Linked DNA regions of Homo sapiens: region 2 is linked to region 1. The links come from fine-mapping of genetic effects on gene expression. A gene starts in region 1. The other region holds a variant in brackets. All regions are shown on one strand. Distances are from middle to middle. Region 1 holds the start of PSMG3-AS1 (PSMG3 antisense RNA 1). Region 2 holds the start of LOC105375123 (a long non-coding RNA gene).

What was found. PIP is the estimated chance that this variant, and not a neighbour inherited with it, causes the effect. A credible set is the group of variants that fine-mapping cannot tell apart.
Region 2: its variant is the best candidate, but not a certain one, in a credible set for the expression of PSMG3-AS1 in cerebral cortex (GTEx, PIP 0.69).

The regions. Positions count from the first base shown.
Region 1 is chr7:1,566,875-1,572,241 of GRCh38, reverse strand. It overlaps PSMG3-AS1 (PSMG3 antisense RNA 1), which reads right to left and starts at 2,169. Exons shown (of 5, transcript NR_027329.1): 1 at 1,963-2,169. PSMG3 (proteasome assembly chaperone 3) reads left to right here and starts at 2,210. Exons shown (of 2, transcript NM_032302.4): 1 at 2,210-3,118; 2 at 4,392-4,910. The coding sequence starts at 2,903. The coding sequence ends at 4,544. RefSeq lists enhancers at 1,159-1,208, 1,219-1,288, 1,912-2,480, 4,187-4,755, 4,635-4,929 and 1 more and silencers at 1,589-1,668, 2,109-2,538.
Region 2 is chr7:1,588,437-1,593,803 of GRCh38, reverse strand. It overlaps PSMG3-AS1 (PSMG3 antisense RNA 1), which reads right to left. Exons shown (of 5, transcript NR_027329.1): 5 at 4,178-5,367. It overlaps LOC105375123 (a long non-coding RNA gene), which reads right to left and starts at 1,365. Exons shown (of 8, transcript XR_001745048.2): 1 at 873-1,365; 2 at 492-701. RefSeq lists an enhancer at 15-64. The variant A/G (reference allele first, on the strand shown) is at 2,213.

The DNA.
Region 1 (5,367 bases):
ACAAGCTACAGGTCATAAAGACCTTACTGATAAAACAGTTTGCAGTAAAGAAGCTGACCAAAACCCACCAAACCAACATGGCGATGAGTGTGACCTCTGGTCGTCCCAGCTGCTACACTCCCACCAGCGCCGTAAGTTTACAAATGCCATAGCAATGCCAGGACGTTACCCTAAAGGGTTTAAAAAGGTAAGGCACGAATAATCCACCCCTTGTTTAGCATATCATCAAGAAATAACCACAAAAATGGGCAACCAGCAGCCCATGCTGCTCTGCCTATGGAGTAGCCATTCTTTATTCTGTTACTGGTGGAGGGTGTCCAGGTTCTTGGCATCTTGAACAAAGAATTGGACAAAATGCACAAAGCCACCGGGCGCGGTGGCTCACACCTATAATCCCAGCACTTTGGGAGGCCGAGGCGGGCAGATCACCTGAGGTCAGGAGTTCAAGACCAGCCTGGCCAACATGGCGAAACCTCGTCTCTACTAAAAACACAAAAGTTAGCCGGGCATGGTGACGCACGTCTGTAATCTCAGCTACTCAGGAGGCTGAGGCAGGAGAATTGCTTGAACCCGGGAGGCAGAGGTTGCAGTGAGGATCACGCCACTGCACTCCAGCATGGACAACAGAGACTCTGTCTCAAAAAAAAAAAAATGCACAAAGCAAAAAAAGAATGAAGCAACAAAAGCAGAAATTTTTTGAAAATGAAAGTACATTCCATGGTGTGGGGGCGGCCAAAGCATAGAGGCTCAGGGCCCCATTACAGAACTTGTGAGGTTTAAATACCCTCTAGGGGTTTCTACTGGTTACTTGGTGTACGCCCTATGTAAATAAAGAGGATGAAATAAAGTTACAAAATCATTTACTCAGTGTACACCCTATGGAGAGGGTATTTCCTGTCATAGCTGAAGTGTTCCCTGCCTCCAGACCCTGTTTTCCTGCCTCAATTCCTTTACTTTTCTAATAAACTTGCTTTCACTTTGTGGACTCGCCCTCAATTCTCTCTTGGGGTCTGGATCGGGACCCCTTTCTGGTAATATAGACAGAAAATACGGCCTTGACATGGTTGTCAGGAAACGACAGTAAGGCCTCCGAGGGTGGGGTTCTGAAGGGATGTTAAACGCCCCACCCCGAGGAAGGCTCTGGAGGCTCCAATCACTTTCAGCCTCTGCTACCAAGATGTCCGACCCTACCAATAAAACTTCCAGCAGCGGGGCGCGGTGGCTCACGCCTGTAATCCCAGCACTTTGGGAGGCCGAGGAAGGCAGATCACCTGAGGTCAGGAGTTCAAGACCAGCCTGACCGACATGGTGAAACCCCATCTCTACTAAAAATTTAAAAAGTTAGCCGGGCCTGGTGGCGCACGCCTGTAATCCCAGCTACACAGGAGGCTGAGGCAGGAGAATTGCTTGAACCAGGGAGGCGGAGGCTGCAGTGAGCCGAGATCGCGCCACTGCACTCCAGCCTGGGTGACACAGCAAGACTCCGTCTCAAACAAAACAAAACAAAAAACCTTCCAGCTTGGAGAAACTGAGAGTGAGCAGTAGGGAGTGAGGGGGTCCCTGGGAGGAACCAGAACTCATCCCGCTTCAGGGTGGGGCTGGCCCCCTTCTTGGCCTTGGCCGGGGCTTCGTGTCACGGAGCGCCCGAGGGACGGTCGGAGCCCACCCCAGCCCGCCCGCCGCCTGAGCCTGGCCGAGCTCTCTGCACCTGCACACGTCTGTAAAACGCGGATGAAACGCTTCTACGGAACCGGGTGGCTGAGATGAAGTGAGTTATGGGTATAAAGCGCTTAGAGCGATGCCTGGCGGACACTCGGTGCCAAATAAGCGTTCGCTGTGGCGACGATGACGCCTCCAGCCCAAAGCCCGTGGTCGAGCAGGGCCGGGCTCCCAGCGCTAGGGGGTTCCTAGGCGCGGCGCTTCGGGGGTCCTGGACACAGACACGGGGGACAGAGCTCCTACCAGCGACGATCCCGAGGGTCTGCAGCAGAGGGGCTGAGGCCCGGGACGGGGGTGGTCGCAGCGCCCTTTCCTGAAAAAACGGGGTTCGGCTCTAAGGCGCCCCCAAGCCCTGCCGGCAGCGCGGAACCCGAGCCGCTCAGAAGCCCGGGAGCCCCAAGTCTCCGGGACCAGAAGCGCCGCGGCCCTGACTTCCGGAAGGTGGACGGAACCCGCGGACGGGGCGGGCCCGCGTGGCGCACGCAGAGCCACTTCCGGGCGCGGCGCCGGCTTGGTGAGCGCGGGTACCCGCGGGCTTCCCCGGGCGGCTGCGTCCCCAGTAGCCCGGCCGGCCTCGGCACCGCGTGTCGTGGGGGTCCCGGGCCGCGGCTGCAGGGCCGGGGCGGCGGCGAGGCCGAGGGGCGGGAAGCCACTGCCCGGCCTGGCAGTGTGAACGTGCAAGTCGATCCCCTAACCCAGAAAGCCCCAGGCGCGGTCTCTATGGGCGGCCCCGCTCCTGCTTCTGTTTTATTTTTTTACGGACAGGGTCTCGCTCTACCGCCCGGGTTGTAATGCAATGGTGTGATCACGGCTCACCGCAGCCTCGACCTCCCGGGCTGAAGCGATCTTCCCGCCTCAGCCTCCTGAGTAACTGGGACCACAGGCGCGCCCTGCTGGTTTTTTTTTTTTTTTTTTTTGGTAGAGATGGGGGTCTCGCTATGTTGGCCAGGCTGGTCTCGAATTCCTGGCCTCAACGATCGTCCTGTCTCGGCCTCCCAAAGTGCCGGGATGACAGGCATGAGCCACCGCGCCTGGCCCCTTCTTTTGAATGGGCCTCCTTGCGTTTCCGTTTCAATGCCCCGTGCTACTTTTTTGGGAGCCCCAAGGCTGTACTGTTTGATTGACTCCTTTTTTTCCCCTTTCTTTTTAACCTAAATTAAAGCTGCCACTGCAGAGCCCCGCCATGGAAGACACGCCGTTGGTGATATCGAAGCAGAAGACGGAGGTGGTGTGCGGGGTCCCCACCCAGGTGGTGTGTACGGCCTTCAGCAGTCACATCCTGGTGGTGGTGACCCAGTTTGGGAAGATGGGCACCCTGGTCTCCCTGGAGCCCAGCAGCGTGGCCAGTGACGTCAGCAAGCCTGTGCTCACCACAAAAGTCCTTCTGGGGCAGGATGAGGTAAAGTGGATTGGCCGGGAACTGTGGCTCACGCCTGTAACCCTAGCACTTTCAGAGGCCTAGGCGGGCAGATCGCTTGAGGCCAGGAGTTTGAAACCAGCCTGGGCAACACAACAACACACACACAAGTCACTACAAAAAAACAAGTGCCTACACAAAATATATATATAGAGAGAGGCTGGGTGCAGTGGCTCACACCTGTAATCCCAGCACTTTGGGAGGCTGAGGCGGGCAGATCACTTAAGGTCAGAAGTTCCAGACCAGCCTGGCCAACATGGGGAAACCCCATTTCTACGAAAAATATAAAAATTAGCTGGGTGTGGTGGCACATGCCTGTAATCTCAGCTACTCAGGAGGCTGAGGCAGAAGAATCGCTTGAACCCGAGAGGCGGAGGTTGCAGTGAGCTAAGATCGTGCCACAGCACTCCAGCCTGGGTAACAGATAGAGACTTGGTCTTAAAAAAAAAAGGAAAAGAAAAGGAAACAAAAAATTAGCTGGGCCTAGTGGTGTGTGCCTGTGCTCCCAGCTACTTGGGAGGCTGAGGTGGGAGGATGGCTTGAGCCCTGGAGGTTGAGGCTGCAGTGAGCCATGATTGTGCCACTGCGCTCCAGCCTGGGTGAGAGAGCAAGACTCTGTCTTTAATAATAATAATAATAATAATAATAATAAAGTGGTCAGGAAGGGACCCCCAGGGAGGAGCATAAACCTCTCCAGTGGCTGTGATTTGTCAGTAAGGACATGGGGCATCTGGCGGACAAATACCCCTACAGCGATAGCATTTTCCGGGCATTTGTGGGTCTCAAGGCGCCCTGCTTGCCCTCAGTGGATGCTTTGTCCAGCCCGCAGGCATTTTATCCAGCAGACAAGCAGAAGCAGCAGTTTTGTCATTCGAGCCGCCTCCCCTGCCATGGTACATTACGTGAGCAGGCGGCTGGCTGTGCTGTGCTCTGTGGAGATCACACGTGAGATTCGACAGCACTCGCTTCTGCAGGCTTCTCTTTCCTGGGTTCTTTTAGATGAGAGAGAGCCAGAAGAGGCGGGGCTGCGGAAGGCGCTGGGAAAATGAATGGAGTGATGGTCTTTAGCAGTGTGCCCGTGACTGGAGTGTTCTGAGTGCTGCCAGAACTCTGAGTCACAGTTGCATGGACTTATGTGGCGGTTAATGGTGGTGTGGGAAGCCTGCCTGGGTTCCTAAGGGATACTTCATGAAAGCATTGAGGAAAAAACCAGGTTTCTTGCAGTTAAAATGGTTTCTTCTCCTTCCTTTACCAGCCTCTCATCCATGTCTTTGCAAAGAACCTGGTAGCGTTTGTGTCTCAAGAAGCTGGAAACAGAGCAGTCCTCCTCGCCGTGGCCGTGAAGGACAAAAGCATGGAGGGGCTGAAGGCGCTGAGGGAGGTGATCCGGGTGTGCCAGGTGTGGTGACCTGGAGGCAGCCGCCCCGCGCTGCTCAGCAGGACACGTGAACACCCAGACACCCACTCAGGGACTCAAGTCTCACCTCCCTCCCCGGTGGAGGGAGGAACTTTGGCACTAGCCCTTGGAGCCAGGAAAAAAGACTCGTGTCTCAGGCAGACTCTTACTCTGGTTACTAAGATCATCTGTGCATGACGGGGAGGGTGGAACAGGTCCCGGAGGAGTCGTGAATGGTTCTCACCAGGACCTGAATCGTTGCTTGTGTTTGAGAATTGGAGGAATGAGTCAGCAGGCGTGGCTCATGGCCCCCCCGTGTGCAGGATCAATTGTAGGAGGAAATTTCTTTTTTATTAAAAGCGAATGTGTATCCCAAAATACTTCACTGTCCTCCTTAACAGTAGCGAGACATTGCAGCCGCACAGCATGAGTTCAGTTTCATGGGCTTCATGAAGGGAAGCTTGTTGGGCAGAAACGCAGAGGGACGTAGTTCCCAGGAACTGGGTGGATCCCATGCTTGGGCCTGTGCACGCTGTCACCCAGCTCCAACTCCAGTAACTTCTCTGAGCCTGCTGGGAAGCTGGTGGCCGTCAGCGGACATCTCTTACTATCTTAATGTGTGTGCCCGTTACCGTGCTGCAGCTGGGGACAGACGCTGTCCTCTGAATCCTGCATAGCAAGGGAGGGGGGACGCTTCTGTCAAGGGAGCAGCGTGCACAGAGGTCAGGAGAGAGGAGCACGGGAGGGCAGGGCACTGTGGGGTGGGTCGCCAGGGTTCACTGGGGTGTGGCTGAACATGACCTCCGTGTGGGGGTAGGCGCGGGTCCTTCTGGGC
Region 2 (5,367 bases), 22 kb before region 1:
CACCCTGCCTGGATAGCAGCTTCCCAAGGGCCCAAGGTGCCAGGGCTGGGCTCTGGCTTCTCTCCCCATGTTCAGAGGCCTCCTTCCTTCCCCTTGGCCAGCAGGGGGCTCACAAGGAGGTCCTGCAGGCGTCCTGCTAACTCCCTGCCCAGCCTCTGTGAGCACCGCCCTGAGGCAAGGTGGGTCTGGCTGCCCCGAGGCCTGGGGGCCGCCCGGCCTGGTCACACACAGGCATCCTGCACTCAATCTGCCCCAAGCCTCCCTCCCCCCAGCCTTTGTCCCATGCCATGCCCCCTGCCAGGGATGCCCTCCCCAATGCTACTGTCCACTTGGACCCCCAGGGAGAGTCTCTCCTCTGTACCCACACCAAATCACAGGAATACAGCCTGATCTGGGACCGGGCATGTTCTAGCTTGTGTGATAGCTTCCTATTCACACCTTTTATCCTCCAAACCTAATTGAAATCCCAGAGACCCAGATTGTCATCTCACAGCCACCGTCGTCACCGTCCGGGTGCCCTGGGGCCCGTCGCCTTCTGAGCCTTGGTTTTCTGGGGTTACGATGGAGACTGCGGGGGTGTGCGAAGCTTCAGAGTACAGTAACCAGGTGTCACAGAGGTGCACGGAGCACGGGACATGCTGAAAGGGGCTGGTTGCCCTCTTCTTCCTGGGAAAGGGCTCTGAGCCTCAGATTCCAGACCCCTGGAAAGGACGGACAAAAAGGTGAGAGCACAGCTGCCTCGGTCTTGCTGTTTCCAGGTAAACAGTTCTATGGACTCGATGGAGGAGCCTGGCTCCCCCCTACCCATACATGGTCTCCGAAGATGTTCCCGGACAAGGCACTCCCCAGCCGCCCCCTCTCCACGCCCCCACCTGCTACGTCCTGTCCTCTGAACAACAGAAGCAGGGGAGGACGAGGCGTTTGAGGAGTTCAGGGAGTTGGAAGAGAGTTAGCAGATTTCTGAGAACCCCAGGTGCAGCTTAACCTACAAATGGAAAATTATGGTGATGAGAAAGAGGATCTTTGATGAGGCAGAGTCTTGGGGGAATCGGATTTTGGCTGACGTGCAAGAAAAAGGCAGGCTGGGCGGGGAGGCAGGAAGAGGCAGGTGTCCCTGCAGGGAAAGGGGGCGGTGGAGGTGGGAAGCGTGTCCTGAGCGGATGTGGGTGGGGGCGAACAACGGGAGGTGCCCCCCAAGGCCTCGGGGACCCCATTTCCTGCACTGCCAGCTGCCAGCCCTGGGGACCACTGAAGAGAGCTTGGACCCGCCTGGCTGGCTGTTTACGTCTCACCCATCATGCATTAAGCATGCACCTGCTGGGTGCCCCCAGTGACTCCTGGTGCCACCGAGGTACTTCCATAGAGTGCGTGTCTGTCCCCACACCCCCGCAGAGTGGGCTGCTCCTGCCCGCCCGGCCCCACCACCCACTCCCACTGTTGCATGGCCTCTTGTAGCTAGACGCCAGCTGGCCGGTCTCTGGGTGGGCCGCCACGGCTCTTCCCATCCTTCGCGCCCCATTTTTCCTGCCCAGTCATGAGTAGAGTGGATTTCCATCCCCGGAGGGCTGGGCCAGCCATGCTTCCTGTCGGCCGGTGGCATGCAGTGAGGACGTCCCACCTTCGGAAGCATGACCTCAGGAAGTCCCCAGTTTCTGCTGAGATCCTGAGATGCCCAAGAAGGAAACCAGTCCAGCCTCCCGCAGGCAGAGCCCTGTGAGGGGCCGCGGCGCCTCGGACCACCAGCTGGATGCTGCGGGGAGGGGAACTCCCCACCACCCGCCAACCCACAGCCGTCTGACTGATGTGGGCTCCCGGCGAGGGAGGCTGCAGCCTCCCAGACAGCTCTGGCTCAGGCTGGGTGGCTGGGAAGTGCACATAGATTAGCCAGGGTTCTCCAGAGACACAGAACCAAAGGATATATGTGTGTGTCTGTGTGTGCATGTGTGTACAGAGACACAGAGACAGAGACAGACAGAGAGAGAGAGAGAGAGAGACAGAGAGAGATCTACATGGGAATCGGCTCACAGAATCACAGAGGCTGAGAAGCCCCACCATCTGCTGTCTGCAAGCTGGAGGCCCAGGGAAGCCAGTGGAGCAATTCAGTCCAAGTTTGAAGGCCTGAGAACAGGAGCTCGATGTCCAAAGTCAGGAGGAGATGGATGTCCCAGCACAGGAAGAGAGAGAATTCCCTCCCCTGCCTTTGTCCCGGGGG[A/G]GGCCTCAGTGGTTTGGGTGACACCTGCCCACATTGGGGAGGGTGGACTTGTCTACTTGGTCTGCTGATTCAAGTGCTGATCCCTTCTGGAAACTTGGGGGAATGGGATTTTGGCTGTCGTGCAAGGAAAAGGCAGGCTGGGCGGGGAGGCAGGAAGAGGCAGGTGGTCCTGCAGGGAGAAGGGGCGGTGGAGGTGGGAAGCGTGTTCTGAGCAGATGTAGGTGGGGGCAAACAACGGGAGGTGCCCCCCAAGGCCTCAGAGACCACAAGACCTGCTAGCTGCCAGCCCCGGGGACTGCTGAAGAGAGCTTGGACCCACCCGGCTGGCCATTACAGCCTCACAGACACGCCCAGAAGTGATGTTTTTTACCAGCTCTCTAGGCGCCACTTACCCCAGTCAAGTTGACTCCTAAAATGAATATCACAGCCAGGTCAGAGGTATGCACAGACTTTCCCTCTGAATTCCCTCGACGCCCTTTGAAGGGGTCCTATTATTATTCCCATCTTATAAAAGAGGATGTTTGAGAGTTTCAGTGATGGCTCCTGACCACACAGCTCAGGGCGGTGAAGCCCAGACACACATCAGCCTTCACGCCTGGGCTCTCAAGTTCTCCCCAGCCTGGTTTTCTCTGAACCCAACCCAAGTCTCTCCACTCCTGAGGGATGATACATGCCCACCCCTCTCCGGAAGCCTCCACGCCCACCCTCTCCTTCCACTTCTCCCAGCTGCATCTCCCAGCCACGCTGCCTCTGACCTGTCTTCCCCAGACCCAGCCTCATTTCTCCAGACCCCGGGCCCCTATCTCCCCTTTCCTCTGCCATTTGGCAGATTTGCTATGTGGCCCCGGGAACACAGTCTTCAGCAATCTCTGTCTAGCACGGTGCAGGGAATTAAAGGTGACTCACACCTGTAATCCCAACAACTTTGAGAGGCCGGGGTGGGAAAATCCCTTGAGTCCAGGAGTTTGAGATCAGCCTAGGCAGCATCTCCAGATCCCTTTGCTACAAAAACATTAAAATTAGCCAGGCTTGGTGGCATGCACCTGTAGTCCCAACTACTCTGGAGGCTGAAGTGGGAGGATCGCTTAAGCCCAGATGGTTGAGACTGCAGTGAGCTTTGATGGTGCCACTGCACTCCAGCCTGGGTGACAGAGCAAGACCCTGTCTACAAACAAACAAATGAACAGAAAAAAGACTGCAAATTCTTTGCCCCCCTCCCATTGAGAGGAAGCTGTTCCCCCTCCCGTTGAATCTGTGGGCTCCGGGCTCCATCAAGAGCATGTGGGGACTGAGTCATTTGTTCACCCGCGTTCACAGCAGCACCGTCCCCAACAGCCAAAAGGGGAAAGCAGCCCAAGTGTCGTGGACCGATGAATGGATACACAAAACGTGGTCCTTCCACACAGTGGAGCATTACTCAGCCTTCAAAAGGAATGAAGGCTGGGCACAGTGGCTCACGCCTATAATCCCAGCACTTTGGGAGGCCAAGGCGGGGGGGATCACCTGCCTGAGGTCAGGAGTTCAAGACCAGCCTGGCCAACATGGTGAAACCCCGCCTCTACTAAAAATACAAAAATTAGCTGGGTGTGTTGGTGGATGCCTGTGATCCCAGCTACTCAGGAGGCTGAAGGAGGAGAATCGCTTGAACCCAGGAGGTAGAGGTTGCAGTGAGCTGAGATTGCTCCATTGCACTCCAGGTGGGTGACAAGAGCAAAACTCATTCTCAAAAATAAATAAATAAAAAATAAATAAATAAAAAATTTTTAAAAGGAAATGAGGTGCCGTCATGTGCTGCAATGTGGATGAAACTCGAGGACATTATGTAAAGTGAAATAAGCCAATTGCCAAAAAACTGATACTGTATGATTCTGCTTATGTGAAGTGTCTGAAATGGCCTTGTTCATAGAGGTAGAGCAAAATGGTGGGTACCAGCGGCAAGAGGGGCAGAAGGATGGAGAGTTATGGTTTAATGCATACAGAGTTTTTATTGCAGATGATGAAAAAGTTTTAGATATAGACAGTGCCGATGGTTACACAATATTGTAAATGTATTTAATCCCACTTACGAATGATTAAAATGATAAATCTTATGTTTATTTCATCACTACCAAAAGGCTGTGGGTGCAGGGGTGCTGGTTTCTGGTCCTAGCCTAAGAGACTGGCAGTTTCCACCTTCTATCTCTTGGGACAGTAGCTCTGGGAGCCCTGAGCTGTCATGCAGGAAGTCCAGCTACCCTGAGACCACCATGCTGGAAAGGCCACAGGGAGGAGCTCTGTGGACAGTCCCAGCTGAACCTTGCCTTCCAGCTGTCCCTGTCAAGATGCCAGGCATGTGAGTAAAGCCATCATGGACCCTCTAGACCAGACTGCCCACCAGCAGGGTACCATCTGGCAGCCACATGGAGCAGAAGAACCGCCCAGCTGAGCCACTTCCAAACTCTTGACCCACTAAGTCATGATCCACAATGAACCCATCATAGGGATGGTTGGCTTTGCAGTGTGGATAATGAGGATGTCATGTGAGAGACAGCTGAGGTACTGACCCAGGGTGTGACTGATGCTCCCCATGTACCCAGAGCTCACTTGTGAAATGAGGACCATGGGACATCATGAGGATGAGAGGCGGTGATCCAGGAGTGTGGACATTCAGCCAATGCCTGACAGAGCTGGGATATAAACACCTCAGCTCCCTCTCCCTCAGGGAAGACTTTGAGGCGTGTGCTCCAGCAGCTGCCCACAGTGGGGGTAGGCATGGAGACACACCCACTGTGGCCCATCTTCCCTTACCCATCTCACTCCCTGGGATGGTTAATTTTATGTGTCCACTTAAGTGCACTGTGGGGTGCCCAGACTACACACTGTGTCTGTGAGAGTGTTTCTGGATTAGATCAGCATTTGAATTGTGGACTCAGGAAGGTGGACTGCCCTCCCCAAGTGGCTGGGCATAATCCAATCCCTCAAGAACTTGAATAGAACAGACAGCAGAGGGAGGAGGAGTTCACCCCTCATTTCCTGCCTCGCCACTGGAGCCGGGACATCTCGTCATCTCTTGCCCCTGGACTGGATGTCCACCATCGGCTGCCCTGGTTCTCAGGCCTCCAGACCTGAGCTGAGTTTGAATCACACCTCAGGCTTCCCTGGGTTTCCAGCTTGCA